Linked DNA regions of Homo sapiens: regions 2 and 3 are each linked to region 1. The links come from fine-mapping of genetic effects on gene expression. A gene starts in region 1. Each other region holds a variant in brackets. All regions are shown on one strand. Distances are between the middles of the regions. Region 1 holds the start of ATR (ATR checkpoint kinase). Region 2 overlaps ATR (ATR checkpoint kinase). Region 3 overlaps TRPC1 (transient receptor potential cation channel subfamily C member 1).

Region 1 (8,187 bases):
GTATCATTTAAAAATGTGAACAAAGAGGAACATGGGAAGAGGAGCCAGGATTGTGGGTAGTGGTCAGAGTTTCTTACAAAGTTTCATTTTGTAAAGATTATGTACTCATGTATTATTTGTGTAATTTTTAAAAATCAGTTTTAGAAAAATGTAAATTGATTACCATTCATTAGATCTACTATCAGAAGAAAGAAACTTGGCCGGGCGTGGTGGCTCATGTCTGTAATCCCAGCACTTTGGGAGGCTGAGGTGGGCGGATCACTTGAGCCCAGGAGTTTGAGACCAGCCTGGGCAACATGGTGAAACCCCGTCTACAAAAATACAAAAATTAGCCAGGCATGGTGGCACACACCTGTAGTCCCAGCTACTTGGGAGGCTGAGGTGGGAGGATCGCTTGACCCCAGGAGGCAGAGGTTGCAGTGAGACATGTTCATGCTATTGAACTCCAGCCTGAGCAACAGGTGAGCCAGTCTCAAAAAAAAAAAAAAAAAAAGAAAAAAGAAAGAAAACTCACAGGAGTGAGCACTTCTTATTTTGTGACTTCTACCCTGGAACTGAGCTAAGAGGGTATAACTTTTCAAAAGCATACTATAAAATTTGAGTATTAATGTAAGTATTATATAAAGCTTAGGCACCTCCTCTGAGGTAAGCATCAAATACCAGGATAACCAAGACAGAATGCACCTGCCCTAAAATAATTTGCAGATTAAAGGACAAACAAGAGGTAATTATGGTTAAGAACTGACAGGCCCAAGAAAGAACACAAAGGGACACTCAGCCCTGAGCAGGGCCCTGTCAGTCATGGCTTCCTTAACGAGGTGATACAAAACTGACTCCCTAAGGGACAAGGCAGTGAAATAAGGGTAAGAGGGAGGGTAGTCCAAGCACTGGAAACTGTAAGAGGCTCTATGTGGCTAAAGCCTTTAGAGATGCAGCTGAAGAGGGAAGATAAGGTTAAATTTCAAAGGACTGGCTAAGTAGTTTGGATTTTACACTGAAGGCAATGTGTAAGCACTGAAGGATTTTAAGGAAGTAAAAATTAAGCAAGTTTTAAAAAACTTGCTTATTTCCCTGTTTAAAAGATTCCAATGGTTTCCCATCACACAATAAAATCTCACTCCTTTTTCTAGCCTCCAAGGTGCTGAAGGATGTGGCCCTTGCCTACCCCTCCCTGTTTAACTCATACCACTCCCCTCTTTACTCCCTGTGCTCCAGCCTTCTTACTATCCTTTTAAAAGTAGGCTCATTCAGCCTTGGCATGGTGGCTGAGGTGGGTGCATCACTTGAGGTCAGGAGTTGGAGACAACCTGTGCAACATGGTAAAACCCCATCTTCACTAACAATATAAAAATTAGCTCGGTGGTGCAAGCCTGTAGTCCCAGCTACAGGAAAGGGAGGCTGAGACAGGAAAATCGCTTGAACCCGGGAGGCAGAGGTTGCAGTGAGCAGAGATCACGCCACTGGAGAGGGCGAGACTCCGTCTCAAAAAAAAAAAAAAAAAAGCAGGCTCATTCCCACTTATGGGCCTTTGTACTTCCTATTCCATCCCAGATTCACGTGACTAGCTTCTTTACACCATCAAATCTCCTCTAGTGGCTAATGCTGCTGCTCCTCAGAACCTCCTCCACATCCCACTGTTCCATTTAACATTTTAATAGCAACTATCACATTTGAAAATGTCTTACAACTACAAAGCAATCTCAAGTAGGAAAATCAGAGAAGGTGATTCTGAAATGACATCTAAATGAAACCATCCAGTGTTCAGATAGAAGGAACAGCAAACGATTAAAGGCAGGAACAGCCTTGGTATCCTGGAGAAACAAGGTCAGTATCACTAGAGTAAAGTAAGCAAAAGAGGGATAAAAGGTGATGAAGTCAGAGGCAGGCTGAGCCAGATTATGTAGAACCTTAGAGGCCTTGGTAAGGAGTTTGGATTTTATACTGATTTTAAGTGTGCTGGAATGTCAAAGGACGGTTTTGTGCAGGGGAACTTACAATATGACTAATAGATGAAAAATCACTTTACTGAGTGGAAAATCTATTATAAGTAGGTAAAAGTAGAAATGGAAAGATCAACTAAGGTTACTGTAATAGTTCAGGTAAGAAATTCTGGTGGTAGCAGTGGAGACAGTGAGAAGTGTTAGATTCTAGATGTATCTTAAACATATGGTTGTCAGAACTAACTTATGGATTATTAAGCGACAAGGGAAAAAAACCAAGGATGACTCCTAGGCTTTTGGTTGGCATATTTACGATAACACAGGAGAAGGAACAAATTCAAGGGCGCAGTAAATCAGGCGTTCTGCTTTGGATATGTTAATTTTCACTTCCCAGTGTGGATGTTGAGTAAGCAACCTAATATATATCTCCGATCTAGAAATATAAATTTGGGAGTTATCAGCATATGGATGACATTTAAAGCCATGAGATTAGGTAAGATTACTTGGGAAGACAGCACAGATTAAAAGAGGGCCAAGGACATAGACTGAAAGCACATGTGAAAATAGTTAAGAATGACTTCTAGATTTCCAGTTTGGAGAACTAAGTGAATATGGTGCCATGTACTGAGATATCTCTACTTCAATGAATAAGAGAAAAATAATTTTTTTAATTTAAAAAAAGAAAGCTTGTGAAAGCTAGGACATGTGGGGAATTTGTATTGGATATTCTGAACCTTAACTACACATAGGACACTCAGTGAAACTACCAGTATACAGTAAATATACAATTCTATAGAAGACATGATTTGGAGAAACATATTAGTAGTCATCAAATAGCAGATTATAGTTGAAGGCAGGAGAGTGGAAAGGTCATTTAGCAAGATTATGCAGAGCAGACTGCTAATAGCAAAAAAACAATAGGACAAAATTTATCTGAGGGACTGAGGAAGAGCAGCCCATAAATTAGAACACTAATATCTTTTTTTTTCAGTAGTCTAATTGCCATAGTCAATTAAGAGGAAACATTTTGGAAGAAAAGGCCTTGAAAGCTTGAATCTGAAACCTAGCTCTGTTATCTGCTAGCTGTGCCTTTGGTTCTTCAACTTCTCTGTCCCTTTTTCTTAAACAGTGGTAACACTTGTTTCATTCTATGTCATGGATATACTATGAAAATTGATTAGCTTTTTTGATTCAAGTAGTTGTAATGAAAAAGCCATGACAATTAAAAACTATTAGACAACTCTCTGTGGGTCAGTTTTTCTATTCTTTCTCTTGGAATAGCTACAAATAAATGAAAGGTAACATAAACTCTACTGATGAAACCGACTATATATAATCCAAGAACCAATTATTTTTATTAACAGGACTCACGGAGGAAGACAGAAGAGGGAAGAGAAGTATTAACCAGTTAATTCTACTTTAAAGCAAAGTGGCAAAAATATACTCAGCTTCACAATGAGCCTGAAAGATGAAATTTGTAAACCAACTTCCTACAATGATCACTTTTCTTCCTCTTCTTTTAGAGAGGTAGAGGTTATTTTATAAACTAAACACAAAGTATACTTGCCACAGATAAGTGGAAAAAATTCACACACTCAAAAATAGTGATGCAGTTACGACAAGAATGGTCCCTTCATTTATCCTTTTATTCATATATTGAGACTAGATTATTTGGATGGCCAACCAGTGGAAATGAACACAACTGCGCTGCAAAAAGAAAGAGAAGTAGCTATCCCATTGGCTTAATGTCAGCTTTGACTTTGTGTGGAAAGTTTTCAAACAGTTTAAGAAATTGGGAAGCAGTTATTCCAAATGATAATTTAACTGCGGTAGCAGCACAAGCTTATTTATTTCTTGTTCGCAGTAGTGTAGAATTAAAACAAACAAAGCAAAACAAGCTCTACCGAGTCTTTAGGCCTGGTTCAGGGAAGCCTGCCTGTGTATTGAAGAGGTGTGAGAGCCATCAACACCTCTCCCTCCTTGTGGTAAGATACTGGTTTTCATGAGGTTTACAGACAACATGCATTTGCAAATGAAATATTAAATTGTCTCCAAATTTTGGCAACACTCTGTGCACGCTGAGATTTTGTGGACCCAGGGGTCTATCTCTCCAATTTCTGACTAAAATAACGGATCGGGAACTGGACGATCAATACGAGGGAGGTCACATCTTCAGTATGTACTATGACTTCACTTCAAAGAAAAAAACTGCCTTTTCCAGCAAGTGATGTCACTTGCAGAAAATGAGAAGCGGTGATTTTCTTTCAAGGGCAGTTTGGGGACAAAATGTAAGGCTAAAAACCAATTCCTCCACGAGTGATCACAAAGAACAGAAACTGATGGGTCAAGTCCCTCGTCTAAGGAAAAAGATTTTCGAGAAGAAAATGAGTGTAGAAAAGTGACCAGAAAGCGATCAGCAGGGACTCTTCCTCCAGCTGCAGGAAGCAAACTCTCGATCGGGGTGAGTGGTAAACCAGGGCCGGCAGACGCCTCTCTCCCCCACGGACCGGCTTCCCGCAGGTTTGTGGCGACTGCCCCATGTGCTATCAACGGGCACTCTGAGGGAGAAGCGCCCAAATCAGCCACGGAGCATCTCCACAAGGGCCGCAGCGGGGGCTTAGGGGATCCCAGCCATAGCGCAGCAGGGGAGGGGAGAGCACGTGAAACCCAAGCCGGAATCAGCGGAGGAGGATGCAGGACCCAGGCTGGGCCTAGCCCTACCTGCCCAGCTCCCGCAGGGCGGGGATCATGGAAGCCAGCTCCAGGCCATGTTCCCCCATGCTGAGGCTGCGAGGCACTAGTCAACCACGCCAACGCGGGTTCCCGGCGTCTCCAAAGCTACCGCTGCCGGAAGAGCGCGGCGCCCGACGGAGCCGTGTGGAGGCCAAAACTCCTCCCGGAAGCCGCTACTGGCCCCGCTTGCCAGGCCCAGCGTCTTTTCTGCATAGGACCCGGGGGAAGCCGGGAAGCCGTTAGGGGGCGGGGCAAGCGGGCGGGCGTGCGTCGGTCAAGTTTCCCGGGTCGCGTCAGGCTTCTTTCTCAGCACCGAGCGAGCGACGTTCGTGAAGCTTTCGTTTTGAGCGGCCAGACTCTGCTGTTCTCAAGCCTGGGAGGCACAGAGAAGCAAGACTTCCGCATCGGGGGAGGATAGGGCTTGAGGGCCGCCAGCCCAGACTCGCTTCACAAATGTGAGAACTATGACAGTCCAGCGAGTAAAGGCCAAGAGTAAACTCCAGGTTTCCCCAGAGTAACGCTCTCACATTTTAAAAGTTCCTCACGTTCCCACCGCTCTTGTCCCTCTTTCTGAGAGATACAGGCCAAAAGGTGGGCTCTCCCTGTTTTTTTCCTTTTAAGCATTTTTTTTCAACTTGAAGTCACTGTTAGGTTTCGTTGAGGACCCTACCAACTTTTAATATTTGAAAATGGGGTTGGAATATATTTGTGTCTCATCAAATCAGCAACAGTACTGTGTGTGGAAATGCCACCATTACGGGCATCCGCAACCTGTGATTTAATTTTTAAAGTAAATCAATGGATTTTGGCAATACACATTTTCTAGCTCAACTCAATTTATTGGAAAGATGACCACCATAAGAGATTGTTGACATGTCAAAGTTATGTAGTTAATCACTCAAAGTCATGCAGTATGTTTACATTTGTTCTTTGGTACATGAGGATAGTTAACCGATACAGTATCTTAAAGAAAAAAGTGATGGAATGACAGCCAAATATGCTCTTGCCTCAAGAACTTTGCATTTGCTGTACTCTCTGCCTTGAACACCACTCTGTCATTGCCCTTTTTCCTTCAGGTGTTTGCCAAATTAACACCAAAGAGCCTCATATAGACTAACATATATACACATTCTGTCTCACCCTCTTTTTTTTGTTAGATACATTGTCTTACTCTGTTGTTCAGGTTCTAGTGCAATGAATGTTGCAATCATAGCTCACTGCAGCCTCAATCTCCCAGGCTCAAGCGATCCTCTCACCTCAGCCTGGGCTCAATTGATCCTCCTGCCTCAGCCTCCTGAGTAGCTGGGACTACAGACATGCCACCACGCCTGGCTAATTATTTTTTGTAGAGACAAGGTCTTGCTATGTTGCCCAGGCTGGTCTCAAACTCTTGGCCTCACACGCTCCTCCCACCTCAGCCTTCCAAAGTACTAGAATTAGAGGTGAGAGCCACCACACCCGGACATACTATATTATTGTCTCTCTCCAGTTAGAGTGTAAGCTCTTGGAGAGCAAGGTCTTGTCTATTTTGTTCACTCTCAGATACCCAGGACCTAAAACTGTGCCTGGCACATAGGTGGTGTTCAGTAAACATTTGTTGAATGAATCACTGAATGTTTTAGGAGAAAGGACATGGGATTGGGAGTTACAGGCCCTACACAAGTTCTCATTCCATCTGCTAGAAACTATATGACCTCAGTAAAGTTACTTAATCTCTTAATACTTCCATTTTTTCATTTATAAAATGGGATTAATAATGTCTACCTCACAAGATTACAGCAAAGATTAAATAAGAGGGGGTAAAGTCATAAAGTGGAATATAATTTCATAGTTAAAATGAATGAATTATACTACCTATACCAACGATGAATCCTGAAAACTACATTGATTGAAAAAGCAAATTCAAAGGTATACATAATAGTGTCATATCATTTATATACAATCTTAAAACCACAAAACAATGCGTTGTGTGAGTTATGTATACAAATATGTTTGATAAAAGTATGAAAACATGTTTGGCAAAGATAGATATCAACTCCAGGATAGTTGCACCTGTGGAAGGGAGAGAAGGGAATGAAATGATGAAGCTTCAATGTATCCCTAAGGGTTTTCTTTTAGTAGGATTTGAATTAATTATTATTTAATCAAAATTTAATGTTATATTTGGGTGGATGTTATATTACTATTTGTATCTGCATAGCCAGGATATTCCAACATGTATTAAAAAAAATAGCTCCTTCCCGTCTTGTAAGATGGTGGGGGAAAAAGTTGAGAAGCCAGACACCAAGGAGAAGAAACGTGAAGCCAAGAAGGCTGATGCTAGTGGCAAGGTTAAAACATAACTTCGGTTGGGCACGGTGGCTCACGCCTGTAATCCCAGCACTTTGGGAGGCTGAGGCAGGCGGATCACCTGAGGTCAGGAATTCAAGACCAGCCTGGCTAACATGGTGAAACTCCATTTCTACTAAAAATACAAAAAATTAGCTGGGTGTGCTGGTGGGCGCCCGTAATCTCAGCTATTCGGAAGGCTGAGGCAGGAGAATCGCTTGACCCCGAGAGGCGGAGGTTGCAGTGAGCCGAGATTGCATCATTGCATTCCAGCTTGGGCAACAAGAGCGAAACTCCGTCAAAAAACACAAACAAAAACACCTCAAGGCTAAAAAGCCAAAGAAAGGGAAGCCCCCCTGCAGCGGAAATCCTGTCCTTATCAGAGGAATTGGCAGATATTCTCAATCTGCTATGTCAAAAAGGCCAGGTACAAGAGGAAGTACTCGGGTACTAAATCCAGAATTAAAAAGAAGAAAGTCCAGACTTGAAAAAGGAAAAGGTTCTTGCCATTGCTACAAAACCAGTTGGTGGCAACAAGAATGGTGATACTTTTTGCAAAGTAAACCCTACAAAATGCCTAGATCCTTCCAAAGATGTGCCTGGAAAGCTGCTGTTGAGCCACAGAAAAAACAAACAGAAACACTTCAGTCAGCACAGAGAAAACTGCAAACTAGCTTCTCTCCTGGGATCATTCTGCTTATCCTCACTGGGCACCACAAAGGCAAGAGGGTGGTTTTACTGGAGCAGCTGAGGAGTGGCTTGTTAATTGTGACTGGACCTCTGGTCCTCATTCACATTCTGTGGGAAACACACCAGAGGTCATCACAAAATTGAAATCAGCAATGTGAAAATTCCAAAACATCTTACCAATGCTTGCTTAAGAAGATGATGCTATGGAAGCCCAAATACTGGGAAAGTGACATCGTCAACACAGAAAGAGAGTAATAGAAGATTATGGAGCAATGCAAGGTTGATCAGAAAGCTGTGGACTCGTGGCCAAGCACGCTAGCTCACTCCTGTTACCCCAGCACTTTGGGAGCCTGAGGCGGGTGGATCACTTGAGGTCAGGAGTTCGACACCAGCCTGCCAACATGGTGAAACCCCATCTCTACTAAAAATACAAAAATTAGCCTGGCGTGGTGGCGGGCATCTGTAATCCCAGCTGCTGGGGAGGCTGAGGCAGGAG
Region 2 (8,187 bases), 86 kb before region 1:
AAGTCCTGACCTAGATTAACAATCTACCTCAAGTTTACTTTTGTTTATGGTGGGAAGAAGGGATCAAGTTTGATTTTTTGTTTTCCTATAAGATACCCAAGTGATACAACAACATTTATTGAAAAGACTATTTTGGTTATTCACAGTTTGCCCCTCCAGATAGATACACTTGCCAACTTTAGCCTTTTCCACTCTGCTCAGTGCCCCAGCAAACTGAAATTGATGATTTATATCAATGGGCCTGTTTGCCCTCTGGCTTCCTGTGAAGTTCAATCAATGGAAGGTAGCAATAGATTAGAGGGTGAGGGGGAGAGTGAGGTTAAGGTCTTTATACCTGCTCGTTTCCTTCCTGCTGGGCTGCAGTTGACAGTGGTGGTGTTTCTTTCCCTAAGGTTAAGTTCTGGTCCAATGGTCCTTTCCTACAAATTTAGCTCCCTGTACAGGTTCCAGTAAATGCCCTATCCTTTTGCTCCTTCAGGTCTAGAGTTAGCAACGACTCTCTGTTGTTGCTAGCCATGGGGTACTTTCACCATCCTTTGTTAATTTCCCTTAATCTAGTTTTTCATTAAACTCTCCCCAATTACCTCTTTTGATTGGGCCAACTATTTTCTCCCTGCACCTGACCTCACACGATACAGTAAAGAGCATCTCAGATAGATTGGAGGTCACTAAGGAGATATGACAACTAATGCTATATGGAATCCTTAATTCTAGACAGAAGAAGAACACTATTGGGAAAACTGGTGAAATGTGGTCTACAGATAGTTAACAGTATTGTTTATCAATATTAATTTCCCACTTCTGATACTCTGGTAGTGTAAGATATTAAAATTAGTGGAAACACGGTAAAGGGTAGATATGGAAATTCCCTATACTACTACTAACTTTTTAGAAGTCAAAGATTATTTCAAATTAAAACTGAAAAAATGAAAGGTGACAGAGAAGCTTCTTGGTTATTCTTGGCCTTTATGTTTCCACATAAGTTTTAAATTCTAATTGTCAATTACCTGTTAGCATTTGATGAGTAATGCATTAAACCTCTAGGTCAGTTTGTAGAGAAATAATTATATTATTGAGTCTTCCCATTCATACATGTATTCTAGCTACCAATTTATTTAGTTCTTTTTTACTTCACTCAATTTTAATGTTTTAATTTTTATTTTGTGGAGAGGTCTTGTGTGCAATTTAATCCTAGGCATTTCATCATTTTTATTGCTATCCTAAATGATATCTTTAAAAATTTTAGGCTGGGCATACATGGTGGCTCACAACTATAATCCCAGCACTTTGGGAGGCAGAGGTGGGAGGATCAGTAGAGGCCAGGGAGTTTGAGACCAGCCTTGGCAGAACAGCAAGACCCTATCTCCACAAAATAAAAAATTAGCTGGGTGTGGTGGCATGTGCCTGTAGTCCCAGCTACTTGAGAGGCTGAGGTGGGAGGATCACTTGAGCCCAGGAGGTTGAGGCTGCAGTGAGCTGTAATCATGCCACTATACTCCAGCCTGGGTTGACAGACCAAGACCCTGTCTCAAAAATAAAATAAAGTAAAATTTTAAATCAACTTTCTTAAGACATATACACCCATGGAACCATCATTCCAGTCAAGAAGATGAACATTCCTAACTCTCGAAAGTTCTTATGGGCGCCCACCCTTGCCGTCACTCTCCTGCCAACTACCCAGGCAAATACTGATATAATTTCTATGCATATACATTAATTATACCTGTTCTAAAATGTCACATAAATGAAATCATATAAGCATATAGTCTTTTATGTCCCTCTTCTTTCATTCAGCATATCTATGACATTAATCTACCTTGTTGCGTGTATCAGTAGTTCATTTCTTCTTACTGTAGGGTAGTATTCCATTATACAACTGTACCAGTTTGTTTACCCATTCTTCTCTGGATGGCCAGCTGGCCTATTTCCAGTTTTTGTGACTAAACCTACTATAAACATTTGTGTACAAGTCTTTTTATTGACATATGTAATTGTTTCTGTTGGATAAACACCTAAGAATGGAATGGAATATGGTAGATTTAACTTTTTATAGTCCCCACCAGGTGCATTTATTGCATTAATAGGTATTGCTAGTCTTTCAGACTTTAGCCATTTTAGTGTGTAATGTGTTATTTCATTGTGGTTTTAATTTGCATCTTCCTAATGACTAATGATGTTAAGCATCTTTTCATTTGCTTTTTGGCCATTTGCGTGTATTCTTTATGAAGTGTCTATCCAAGACTTTTGCAGATCTGTATTTTTTTTCTTTTAATAGACAAAGTTTCACTCTGTAACTCAGGCTGGAATGCAGTGGTGCAATCATAGCTAACTGTAACCTTGAACTCCTAGGCTCAAGTGATCCTCCTGCTTTAGCCTCCCGAATAGCTAAAACTATAGGCATTCGTCACCATACCTGGCTAATTTTTATTTTTGCAGAGACAGGTTCTCACTATATTGCCCAGGCTGGTTTTGAACTCCTAGCTTCAAGTGATCCTCAGGCCTCGGCCTCCCAAAGCACCGGGATTACAGGCCTGAGCCACTGTGCCTAGCCTCACAGATCTTTAAATTGTCTTACTAAGTTGTAGGGTTCTCTATAATTTAGCTACAAATCCTCTGTCATATATGTATTACAAGTATTTTCTCCAAGTCTATGGCTTACCTTTTCATTTTCTTAACTGTCTTTCTTAGAAAAGGTTTTAACTTTGATGAACATCTAATTTATCAGGATTTTTTAAATGCTTAATGCTTTGTGTGACCTAAGAAAACCTTTGCCTACCCTAAGGTTGTAAAGATTTTCTTCTATTTTTTCATCTAAAAATTCATAATTTTAGCTTTTCAGTTTAGATCTATAATCTACTTTTTTGAAGCAATTTTGTCTATCATATGAGGCAGAGGTTGAAGATCATTTTTTTCCTCATACAGATATCCAACTGTTCAAGTACTTTCTGCTTGTAAATGGTATGTTTTAAATTCCTTTCTTGTTGTCATATAGAAATAAAATCATCAGGCAATCTTGTTTAATTCACTCAATATTTTGAATAGTTTATAATCTTTTGAATTTTCTACATATGTATTCATATCATCTGCAATTAATAACTTTCCTATATTTTTTTCCTAGTCCTTGTATCTTTTACTTCTTTTTTTATTTAAAGATTGCCATTTGGGTAATATTTTAAAATGACAGCTCTATTGGGATATAATTAATATATTATAAAGTTCACACTTTTAAAGTTGTTGTTAGTATATTTACAGAGTTGTGTAACCATCACCACTATTTAATTCCAGAACATTTTCATCACTCCAAAAAAAAAATTGTACCAATTAGCAGTCACTTCCCAGCCCCAACCTCAGTCTCT[AG/A]TACCCATTAATCTACCTTCTGTCTCTATGGATTTGCTTATTCTGGCCATTTCATGTAAGTGGAATCATGCAATATGTGGCCCCTTGGATCTGCATGTCATTCTACAGTAGTCAGCCTCTATTCTTTTCTCTACTCATTTCTGTCTACATCATGTATAGGCAACCAGAACAAGAGAAGCAGCTACTGAGGCCTTTATGACAGGAAATTAGGGGTGTATGCAGAAGAAACAGAACCTGAAAAGTTGGTAGTCTGACAACATCTCTCTTCCCTAACCCTGGCTTTAGTACCCAGGCAGAGATGGGAGAACTGGAATATTTGCTATCAAATTCTGCTGTTAAGTACTGGTGAGTTTTTGTGTGCCTCATAAGTTGTTGTGTCTTACATACTAGAATAAATTCAGAAGATCTCTCTAACTGGGAAGGTGAAACTTACAAGTATGGTTTCAGAACTTGCCTCATTATCACTGCCCTTTAGGATAATATAGTTTTTAATGCAAATCAAGGTTAGTTTCTTAGGTGGCATGACATCTTCTTGTAACCAAGGAACAGGAGCTGGACTCCTATTTATCTTCATCAGAATGCAACACTTCCTGGATCTAAAGATTAGCACTGTCTGTGCCATTTGCTTTGGCTGTTGGTCCCATTTAGGTCTTTCTTGTATCTTTGATTTCTCTCTCTTCTCATCATGCTCTTATTTTTGTTTATGTTCTTAAACTTATGGAGCCTATATACAATAGCTGTTTTTAAATCCTGTCATTTCTAGAACTATTTCTACTGATTTATTTTTTTTCCTATCTGTGGCTCAAATATTCCTGCTTCTTCATTCACAGAGTAATTTTTTAATGGATGCTGGATATATTTTTACATTGTCAAGTTTTAGATTTTGTTGTCTTGCTTTAAAGAGTGTTAGGCTTTGATCTGGCAGGCAGTAAGGTTACTTGAAGATCAGTGTAATCATCTTAAAGCTTGTTTTACTGCCCTTCTAGTATGGATATAGAGTAGTTTTTAGCCTAGGACTAATTTAGTCCTACTTCTAAGGTGTGGCCCTTTTAAGGTCTTTACTGAATGCTCCATATTATGCAATGAGGCCTCTTAATCTGGCTGGTGGACTGAATAACTCTCAATCCTGTAATCTGAATGAATCTCAATCCCGTGTGAGCTCTGGAAATTGTTCTTATAGCCTCTGCATGTTTATTCTTTCCCCAGCAGTTATTCCTAGCTTGGCCTCATAGAATTCTGAATTATTCATGTGCAGGCTGGTATTCAGCGAACACAATTCCTATGCAGATAGGAACTACTCTGTTTAACTTTTTTCTCTCAGTTAATCTGTCCCACAAATTCTAGCCACCTGCTCTTTGCTTTATTATTTCCTTTCTTCTACTTTTTTATTTCTCTCCCTACTTTTTTAGTTCCTTTTCTAACTCTTTGGGATAGATACTTAACTCGTTAATTTTGAACCTTTATTTTCTTCGAATATATGCAAATAAAAATTTAAATCCCTTTTAAGAATGGCTTTAGCTGCACAGGATATGATATGCCATTTTTATTATCATTCAGTTCAAAGTACTTTTCAATTTCCATTGAAAGTTTTCATTGACCCATGGATTATTGAGAGGTATATCTCTTACAACACCATCTATATAAAGTTTAATACCTAGTAAAGAAGTTATAAATTGGTTTTGCTGAAAAATTTTCAGGCTAGGATGTAGTTAACTTTGAGACAGAGGGTGAGAATAGTGATTACTGGGATGAAGGGTAGTGGGGTTATAGAGCTCAAATAATATTCTATTTCTTGATGTGGTGGCAGTTTCATGAGTATATTTATTTTGTGATAATCCATATACTTATATACTCACTGAAAAGTCAAAAAAATTTCCTGGTTATTTTTATACATGTGCTTTGCCATATAGACTTAAGTCATTTTACGTAGTCAACAGAGTTAACTGAAACTGCATTATACATATACTTGCCTTATATTTTTTCATAATTGCATTGCTTTCAAAGTTAGCTGTTTCTTCCATAAATCGGCCCACTAGTAGCATAGCTCGACCATGGATTAACATGTTCTTACCCTCAGGTGGGGTTTCATTTTCAGGAAAACATAATTCAACACCTTTTTGAAGAACAATTAGTGCCTGGTGAACATCACCCTAAAAGAAAAAAGGCAACAATAAGCCTTTTAATTTAAAAACATACTTCTATTTTCTGCAAAAGTATTAGTTCATTATGTTTTTGTACAAATCCATTTGTAATTTCATGTTTATCTTTTACTTGCCTCTTATTAAAGTAAAATTCTAAAACTGAAACATTGCTTCATCTCATTCATTCATTTACTAATTAATTTTATAACTGCAGTTGGCTCTCTGTAGCCACAGGTTCCACATCAATGGATTCAACCAACAGTGGATAGAAAATATTAGGAATGGCTGGGCACAGTGGCTCATCTCTGCAATTCCAGTGCTTTTGGATGCCAAGGCAGGGGGACTGCTTGGGGCCAGGAGTTTGATACTAGCCTGGGCAACATAGCAAGATCCTGTCTCTACAAAAAATTTAAAAATTACCCAGGTGTAGTGGCTCATGCCTATAATTCCAGCTACTCGGGAGGCTGAGGGGGAAGGATCGCTTGAGCCCAGGAATTCGCAGTTACAGTGAGCTATGACACACCACTGCTCTCCAGCCTGGGTGACAGAGCAAGATCCTCTCTCTTAAAAAAAAAAAAAGAAAGCTAGGCATGATGGCTTATGCTTATAGCCTTTGATACAAAGTTCAGGGTGAGGTGGGAGGATTGCTTGAGAGCAGGAGTCCAAGGCATCAGTGAGCTATGATCATGCCACTGCACTCCAGCCTGGGCAACAGAGCAAGACTCTGTCTCTCTCAAAACATAAAAATTTAAATTAAAAAAAAAAAGAAATATTACAAAGAAAAAATTAAAAATAATATGAATAAGCAATACAAGTATAACAACTGTTTACAAAGCATTTGCACTGTATTAGGTATTATAAGTAGCCTAGAGAAGTATACAAGAGGATGTCCGCAGGTTATATGCAAATACTGTGTATGCCACTTTATATAAAGGACTTGAGTATCCACAGATTTTGTTATCCATAGAGAATCCTGGGACCAATCCCTCCATGGATATCAAGAAAGGACTATAATCAAAGTTCAGGGAATTGAAGACAATCACAAACAAATTAAAATCCCTGACATAAAAAAAGTTCATAGTCACATGAGAAAAGAAACTATGTGAAATAAAAGCATATTTGCTAAGTGTTACAACAGAGGAATATACATCAGCATTATACAGGATAGAGAAGAGAGTCCCTTAAACCTACCTGAAGAATATAGGAAAATGGAGGAGAACTACAGTCAGGAAAAGTTATCAACGAAGAAAATTTGAATTAGGTTTTCAAGAATGAGTAGAAATCTTCTTGGCAGAGAATTTAGTGAAAGGCATTCTAGGTAGATGGAATAATAATTTTAATTGGAAGAAAAGCACATAGTCTGATTTTAGCTGAAGTTTAAAGGGTTTTTGAGATGGTGATGAATGACACTGAGGAAGTAGGCCAGGACTTGATCAGAAAGGGATTTGTGTAGTTCCTAGAGTTAGGCTTAATCCTAAAGGTATGAAGAATACTTTGTAAGATTTAATCTTTTTGAAGGAGCAACATGATTCGATGTGGATTTTAGAAAGATCACAAACTGCAATAACGTATACAGGGAAATGGTGAGATCCTAAAATGGTTGTTAATATTGTTAGAGGAAGTAAATAATAAAGTCATAAGTTAAAGCAGTGGAAATAAATAAGAGGGAGAGGATTCAAGAGATATTTCTAAGGTTGAAGAACAAAGATTTAGTCTCCAGCTGGATGTGAAAAGTGAGGTTGCAGAAGGAATTTAAGATGATGTCCAGATTTCTGTTTTTGATGGAAGGATGGAATAAAGTCTTGTTCAGAGAAGTAGGAAACATGAGAGGAGAAACAGATATTGAGTATTAGGTAATAAATTGCATTTTGAACATTTTGAGTTTAAGGTATTATAATACATAGACTACCACTAGCTCAATAAAATGACCAGGTACTGACTAATGCACACTGAATAAATTGCTTTCCCCTCTCATCCAGGAAACCTCTCCTGTCCTTTCTCAGCCACCACAAGTTGGTGTAACCACAAATGGCACCAACAATAGTTGCTAAGTATCAATTCCAGAACATGCTATTATTATTAGTAATGCCTATTACTAATTCTAAACTGGTGACTAGCCTGAGGAGAAATTTAAGTAATAGCCATTAAATCTGGGTTATTGGCCAGGCGCGGTGGCTCACGCCTGTAATCCCAGCACTTTGGGTGGCTGAGGCAGGTGGATCATGAGGTCAGGAGATCGAGACCACCCTGGCTAACACGGTGAAACCCCATCTCTACTAAAAATACAAAAAATTAGCCAGGTGTGGTGGCACACACCCGTAGTCCCAGCTACTCAGGAGGCTGAGGCAGGAGAATCACTTGAACTCGGGAGGCAGAGGTTGTAGTGAGCGGAGATCGTGCCACTGCACTCCAGCCTGGGCAACAGAGTGAGACTCCGGTTCAAAATAAATAAATAAATAAATAAATAAAAATAAAAAATAAATCTGGGTCATAAACCTTGCAAGTAGTTCCAATGTTTAAAAAACCCCCTTCTTATTACTTTGGCTTTAATCTGAGGTCTGCCGTGAACTTCTGTTCAGATGCTAGGCCCTTTCTGGCTAGATCAGAGCTGAATATTTACAGTAACACTGGCAAGTCTACAGAGAGCTAATTATCTGCCAGCAACTAAGTGACAGAGTTACATTCATTT
Region 3 (8,187 bases), 180 kb after region 1:
TAGTCTCCCATTCTATGAGTTGGCTCTTTTGTTTGTTTTGTGGAAGTGTTTTAGCTTACTGTAATCTCAATTGTCTATTTTTGCTTTGGTTGTCTGTACTTTTTTTTTCTTTTTTTTCAATTATACTTTAAGTTCTAGGGTACATGTGCATGTCGTGCAGGTTTGTTACATAGGTATACATGTGCCATGTTGGTGTGCTGCACCGGTTAACTTGTCATTTACATTAGGTATATCTCTAATGCTATCCCTCCCCCCTCCCCCACCCCACAATAGGCCCTGGTGTGTGATGTTCCCCACCTTGTGTCCAAGTGTTCTCATTGTTCAATTCCCACCAATGAGTGAGAACATGCAGTGTTTGGTTTTCTGTCCTTGCGATAGTTTGCTCAGAATGATGGTTTCCAGCTTCATCCATGTCCCTACAAAGGACATGAACTCATCCTTTTTTATGGCTGCATAGTATTCCATGGTGTATATGTGCCACATTTTTTTTATCCAGTCTATTATTGATGGACATCTGGGTTGGTTCCAAGTCTTTGCTATTGTGAATAATGCCACAATAAACATAAGTGTGCATGTGTCTTTATAGCAGCATGTTTTATAATCCTTTGGGTATATACCCAGTAATGGGATGGCTGGGTCAAATGGTATTTCTAGTTCTAGATCCTTGAGAAATCACCACACTGTCTTTCACAATGGTTGAACTAGTTTACAGTCCCACCAACAGTGTAAAAGTATTCCTGTTTCTCTACATCCTCTCCAGCATCTGTTGTTTCCTGACTTTTTAATGATCGCCATTCTAACTGGTGTGAGATGGTATCTTACTGTGGTTTTGATTTGCATTTCTCTGATGACCAGTCATGATGAGCATTTTTTCATGTGTCTGTTGGGTGCATAAATGTCTTCTTTTGAGAAGTGTCTGTTCATATCCTTTGCCCACTTTTTGATGGGGTTGATTTTTTCTTGTAAATTTGTTTAAGTTCTTTGTAGATTCTGGATATTAGCCCTTTGTCAGATGGGTAGATTGTAAAAATTTTCTCCCATTCTGTAGGTTGCCTTTTCACTTTTCCCATTCTGTAGGTTGTAGTTTCTTTTGCTGTGCAGAAGCTCTTTAGTTTAATTAGATCCCATTTGTCAATTTTGGCTTTTGTTGCCGTTGCTTTTGGTGTTTTAGTCATGAAGTCCCTGCCCATGCCTATGTCCTGAATGGTATTGCCTAGGTTTTCTTCTAGGGTTTTTATGGTTTTAGGTCTAACATTTAAGTCTTTAAATCCATCTTGAATTAATTTTTGTATAAGGTGTAAGGAAGGGAGTCTTGCTCTGTTGCCCAGGCTGGAGTGCAGTGGCGCGATCTCGGCTCACTGCAAGCTCCGCCTCCTGGGTTCATGCCATTCTCCTGCCCCAGCCTCCACGCCCGGCTAATTTTTTTGTATTTTTTTAGTGGAGATGGGGTTTCGCTGTGTTAGCCAGGATGGTCTCGATCTCCTGACCTCATGATCCACCCACCTCGGCCTCCCAAAGTGTTGGGATTACAGGCGTGAGCCACTGTGCCCGGCCTTGTCTGTGCTTTTGAGGCCTTACACACAAAAAAAAATTGGCCCAGACCAGTGTCCTGAAGAGTTTCCCCAATGTTTAATTTGAGGTTGTATATTTAAGTTTTTAATCAGTTTTGATTTAATTTTTGTGTATTGTGAGAGATTGGGGTCTAGTTTCATTTCATTCTTCCACATAGTTAATCCAGCTTTCCCAGCAGCATTTATTAAAAAGACTATCCTTTCCCCAAAATATGTTCTCGGCACCTTTGTCAAAGATGAGTTGGTCATAAATGCATGGACTTATATGTGGGTCTGTATTATGTTCCATTGGTCTATGTGTCTATATTTATGCCAGTACCATGCTGTTTGGGTTACTATAGCTGTGTAGTGTATTTTGAAGTCAGGTAATGTGATGCTTCCAGCTTTGTTCTTTTTGCTTAGGATTACTTTGCTATTTGGAGTCTTTTGTGGTTTCATATAAAGTTTAGTATTATTTTTTCTATTTCTCTGAAGAATGTCGTTGGTATTTTGATAAGGATTGCATGGAATCTCAAAATTGCTTTGGGTAGTGTTGTCATTTTAACAACATTAATTCTTCCAGTACGTGAGCATGGAATACCTTTCCATTTTTTGGTGACCTCTTCTATTTTTTTCATCAGAGTTTTATGGTCTTCCTTGCCTAGATCTTTCACTTCTTTGGTTAGATTGATTCCTAGTTTGTTTTGTTTTGTTTTGTTTTTTGTAACCATTGTAAATGGGATTGCTTTTTTGATTTCTTTTTCAGATTGTTCTTTGACATATATAAATGTTATTGACATTTGTATGTTGATTTTTGTATCCTGCAACTTTACTGAATTTTTTTTACCACTTCTAATAGTTTTTTGGTGGAGTATTTAGGGTTTTTTTGATGTAAGATCATGTCATCTGAGAACAAGGCTAATATGACTTCTTCCTTTCCAATTTGGATACTCTTTATCTCTTTGTCTTGCTTAATTGCTGTGGCCAGGACTTCCAATATTATGTTGAATAATAGTGGGAAAGTGGGCATCATCATCTTGTTCCAGTCTTTAGAGGAAAGGCCTTCAATTTTTCCCTGTTGGCTTTTATTATTTTGAAGTATGTCCCTCCTATACCTGTTTTGATGAGGGTTTTTTTGGTTGTTGTTGTTGTTATAAAGGGATGTTGAATTTTATTGAATGCTTTTCTGGCATCCATTGAAATAATCATATGGTTTTTGTTCTTGATTCTGTTAATGTCATGTATCATGTCTATTGATACATATATGTTGAATCATTCTTGCATCTCTGGGATGAATCCCACTTGATCATGACAAGTGATCTTTTTAATGTGTTGTTGAATTCAGTTTGCTGGATTTTTGCATCTATGTTCATATTATATCAATATATCAAAGTGTATTGGCCTGTAGTTTTCTTTTTTTGTTGGTTCCTTGTATGGTTTTGGTATCAGGGTAATGCTGGCCTCTTTGGATGAGTTTGGAAGCATTCCCTCCTTTTCAGTATTTTTGAAGAGTTTGAGTAAGGTTGGTATTAGTTTTCTTGAAATGTTTGGTAGTATACAGCAGTGAATCCATCAGGTCTTGGGCACTTCTTTGATGGGAAACTTTTTATTATGGCTTTGATCTTGTTACTTATGATTGGTTTGTTGAGGTTTTCTATTTCTTCATGGCTCAATCATGGTAGGTTGTCTGTGTCCAGGAATCTAACCATTTTTTCTAGGTTTTTCAATTAGTTTTGCATATAGTAGTTTATAATATTATTTAATGATTCTTTGTATTTCTAAGGTTTCAGTTATATCTCCTTTTTCATTTCTTATTTTTTTATTTGGATCTCTCTTTCTTAGTCTAGCTAAGGTTTGTTGATTTTGTTTATCTTTTCAAAAAATCAGTTTTTCATTTCATTGATCTTCTGTGGTTTTTGTTTTTGGTTTTTTGAGACAGAGTCTCACTCTGTCACCCAGTCTGGAGTACAGTGGCGTGATCACAGCTCACCGCAGCCTTGACCTCCTATGCTCAAGTGATCCTCCCACCTCAGCCCTTCAAGTAGCTGGGACTATAGGCACGTGCCACCACATCTGACTAATTATTGCATTTTTTGTAGAGATGGGGTTTCACCATGTTGCCCAGGCTGGTCTTGAACTCCTGGACTCAAGTGATCTGCCTGCCTTGGCCTCCCAAAGTGCTAGGATTACAGGTATGAGCCACCGTGCCTGGCCTCTTCTGTATTTTTTTAAATTCCAATTTCATTTATTTCTGCTTCGATCTTTATTTCTCTTCTTCTGCTAATTTTCGGTTTGGTTTATTCTTG[A/AT]TTTTTTTTTTTTTTTTTTTTTGACGGAGTCTCGCTTTGTCACCCAGGCTGGAGTGCAATGGCGTGATCTCGGCCACTGCAACCTCCACCTCCCGGGTTGAAGCAATTCTCCCACCTCAGCCTCCCGAGTAGCTGGGACTACAGGTGTCTGCCACCATGCCTGGCTAATTTTTGTATTTTTAGTAGAAATGGGGTTTCACCATGTTGGCCAGACTGCTCTCAAACTCCTGACCTCAAGTGATCCTCCTATCGTGGCCTCCCAAAGTGCTGGGATTACAGGCATGAGCCACCGTGCCCAGCCTATTCTTGATTTTCTAGTTCTTCAAGGTGCATCATTAGATTATTTGAACTCTTTCTACTTTTCTAATATGGGAATTTATTGCTATAACCTTCCCTCTCAGTACTACTTTTGCTCTGTCTCATAGATTTTGGTATGTTATATTCCCATGTTCATTTGTTTCAATAAATTTTTAAATTTTCTTCTTAATTTCTTCATTGACCCATTGGTGATTGAAGAGTATGTTACTTAATTTCCATGTGTCTGTGTATTTTCCAAATTCCTTTTATTATTGATTTCTAGTTTTATTCCATATGGTCAGAAAAGATACTTGTGATTTGTATTTTTCTGAATTTGTTTAGACTTGTTTTGTAGCCTAAGATATGGTCTGTTCTGGAAAATGTTTCATGTGCTGGTGAAAAGAATGTATATTCTGTAGCAATAGGGTGAAATGTTCTATAAATGTCAGTTAGGCCTATTAGATCTAGTGCGTAGTTTAATTTTACTCTTTCTTTGTTGATTTTCTGTCTAGATGATTTGTCTATTACTAGAGTGGCATGTTAAAGTCCCCTACTATTATTGTATTGTAGTTTATCTATGAACCTAACACTGGAGCCTTCATGTATATAAAGCAAGCATTAACTTTATATACTTGGGGGCTCCAGTGTTGGGTTCATAGATATTCATAATTGTTATATCTTCTTGCTGAATTGCCACCTTTATCATTATATAGTGACCCTCTTTGTCTTTTTTTAGTCTTTGATTTGTAGTCTATTTTATCTGATATAAGAATAGATACTCCTGATCTTTTTTAGTTTTCAGTTACGTGGAATATCTTTCAGTCTCAGTCTATGTGTATCTTTATAAGTGAAATGGATTCCTTGAAGGCAGCATATAGTTGGGTCTTATTTCTTTATCCATTAAGCCACACTATGCTTCTTAATTGGACAATTGAGACCATTTACATTCAGTGTGATTGTAAATAAGTATGGACTTACTGCAACCATTTTATTGCTTGTTTTCTCCTTGTTTTGAGAATTCTCTTTTCCTTTTTTTGTTTCTTATTGTCTTCCTTTGTAGTTAAGTGATTATCTCTGGTAGTATATTTTAATTTATTGATGTTTATTTTTAGTGAATATATTATAGGTTTCATACTATCATTACCATGATTCTTGCAAAAAACATCTTATAAATATAACAAATTATTGCAGTCCAGCCTGGGCAATAGAGCGAGACTCCGTCTCAAAAAAAAGAAATATATATATATATATATATATATACACATACATACATACATATATATATATATATAACAAATTATTTTAAAGAGATGACACTTATTTTAGATCACAGACAAAAGAATGGAAACAAAGGCAAAAAAAAATTCTACACTTTAGCTTCTTCTCCCAACATTTTCACTTTTAGTTGTCAACTGATATATTTTTATATTACCTATTTCATTTTCACTTTTAGTTGTCAACTGATATATTTTTATATTACCTATTTCTTAACAGGTTGCTATAGTTATTATTGTTTTTGATAAACTTGTCTTGGAGGCTTCACACTAGAGATATGAATGGATTGTACACCACAGATACAGTAATAGATTATTCTGTGTTTGTCTGTATACTTAATTTTACCAATGGTTTTTATACCTTGAACATTTTTTCTTTGCACACTGGTATTTTGTATTTTCTTCCAGATTGAAGAACTCCATTTAGCATTTTTTGCAAGGTGGATCTGGTAGTGATGAATTGTCTCAGCTTTCATTTGTCTGGGAAAGACTTTATCTCTACTTCTTATTTAAATAACAATTTTTTCTGGATACAAAACACTTGGATGGCAGGGCTTTTTTTTCCCTTTGGGCACTTTGAAAATGCCATTCCACTCCCTTCTGCCTGCATGGTTTCATTGAGAAGTCTGTTTCCAGATGAATTGGGGCTTCTTTATATGTTATTTGCTTCTTTTCTGTAGCTGATTTTAGGGTATTCTCTTTGTCATTGACCTTTGTGAGTTTGATTATTATATGTCTTGTATAGATTGAATCTGTTTGGTGGTCTAAGACCTTCCTGTACGTGGATATTTATATCTTTCTCAAGTTTTGGAAAGTTTTCTGTTGTTATTTCTTTGAATAAGTTATTTATCCCTTGTTCTTGCTCTGCTCCCTCTTAAACACAGGAATTCTTACATTTGGTCTTTTGAGGTACTCTTTTATATCTTATAGGCAGTCTTTGTTCCTTTTTGTTCTTTTGTCTTTTTTCTCCGCTGAATGTGTATTTTCAAACAGCTGATCTTCAAGCAGAATTTCTATACATCAACATTGTTCAAGCTGAGGGCCAAATCAAGAATGCAGTCCCATTTACAATAGCTGCAAAAAGAATAAAATATGTAAGAATACAGCTAACTCAGGAGGTAAAAAAAAATCTCTACAATGAGAACTACAAAACATTACTGAAGAAAATCAGAGACAATACAAACAAATGGAGAAACAGTCCATGCTCATGGATAGGAAGAATTAATAGTGTTAAAATGGCCATACTACCCAAAGCAATTTACAGATTCAATGCTATTCTCGTCAAACTACCAACATCATTTTTCACAGACTTAGAAAAAACTATTTTAAAATTCATATGGAACCAAAAAAGGACTGAAAAGTTAAAGCAATCTTAAGCAAAAAGAACAAAGTCAGAGTCATCACATTACCTGACTTCAAACTATACCACAAGGCTACTGTAACCAAAACAACATGGTACAACACAAAAACAGACATATAGACCGATGGAACAGAATAGAGAATCCAGAAATAAAGCTGCACCCCCACCATGTGATCTTTGACAAAGTAAACAAAAATAAGCAATGAGGAAAAAGGCTTCCTGTTCAATAAATAGTCTTAGAATAACTGGCTATCCAGATGCAGAAGAATGAAACTGGACCCCTACCTATCACCATATAAAAAAATTAACTCAAGGTGGATTAAAGTCCTCAAAAGTAATTTCAACAAAAACAAAAATTGACAAGTGGGACCTAATTAAACTGAAGAGCTTCTACACAACAAAAGAAACTATAAAGGGAATAAACAGATGATCTATAGAATGAGAGAAAATATCTGCAAAGTATGCATCTGACAAAGACCTAATATCCACAACCTATAAAGAACTTAAATAACCCCATTAAAAAGTGGGCAAAGGACATGAACACTTTTCAAAAGAAGACATACATGTGGCCAACAAGCATATGAAAAAAAGGCTCAATATCACTGATCATTAGGGAAATGCAAATCAAATCTACAATGAGATGCCATCTCATACCAGTCAGAATGTCTATTAAGAAGTAAAAAAAAAAACAGATGCTGGCAAGGTTATGGAGAAAAAGGAACGCTTATGTGTCTATATTTACATCAATATAACTCTGTACTGATTACTATCGCTTTATAGTAAGTTTTAAAATCAATTACTATGTGATGGTTAATACTGAATGTCAACTCGATTGGATTGAAGGGTACAAAGTATTGATCCTGGGTGTGTCTGTGAGGGTGTTGCCAAAGGAGATTAACATTTGAGTCAGTGGACTGGGAAAGGCAGACCCACCCTTAATCTGGGTGGGCACAATCTAATAAGCTGCCAGTGTGGCTAGAATATAAGCAGGCAGAAAAATGTGAAAAGAGACTGGCCTAGCCTCCCAGCCTACATCTTTTTTTTTTTTTTCTTTTTTTTTGAGATGGAGTCTCACTGTGTCACCCAGACTGGAGTGTAGTGTTGCGATCTCAGCTCACTGCAACTTCCACATCCTGGGTTCAAGCCATCTTCCTGCCTCATCCTCCTGGGTAGATAGGACTACAGGCATGTACCACCATGCCTGGCTAATTTTTGTATTTTTAGTATGGCCAGGCTGGTCTCAAACTCCTGATCTCAGGTGATTCACCCACCTCGGCCTCCCAAAGTGCTGGGATTACAGGTGTGAGCTACCATGCCTGGCCCCAGCCTACATTTTCCCCCATGCTGGATGCCCTCAAACACTGGACTCCAAGTTCTTCAGTTTCGGAACTCAGACTAGC

What was found.
Region 2: its variant is fine-mapped to the expression of ATR in whole blood (TOPMed, PIP 0.94).
Region 3: its variant is fine-mapped to the expression of ATR in whole blood (INTERVAL, PIP above 0.99).

Annotation. Positions count from the first base shown.
Region 1 is chr3:142,573,985-142,582,171 of GRCh38, forward strand. ATR (ATR checkpoint kinase) reads right to left here and starts at 4,749. Exons shown (of 47, transcript NM_001184.4): 1 at 4,662-4,749. The coding sequence starts at 4,720. It also overlaps the pseudogene RPL6P9. RefSeq lists enhancers at 4,540-4,699, 5,000-5,099.
Region 2 is chr3:142,487,805-142,495,991 of GRCh38, forward strand. It overlaps ATR (ATR checkpoint kinase), which reads right to left. Exons shown (of 47, transcript NM_001184.4): 35 at 5,328-5,507. Among named protein-coding and RNA genes, the nearest start is that of XRN1, 44 kb to the left of the region's middle. The variant AG/A (reference allele first, on the strand shown) is at 3,357.
Region 3 is chr3:142,758,572-142,766,758 of GRCh38, forward strand. The region is part of intron 4 of TRPC1 (transient receptor potential cation channel subfamily C member 1); the gene reads left to right. Among named protein-coding and RNA genes, the nearest start is that of TRPC1, 39 kb to the left of the region's middle. The variant A/AT (reference allele first, on the strand shown) is at 3,857.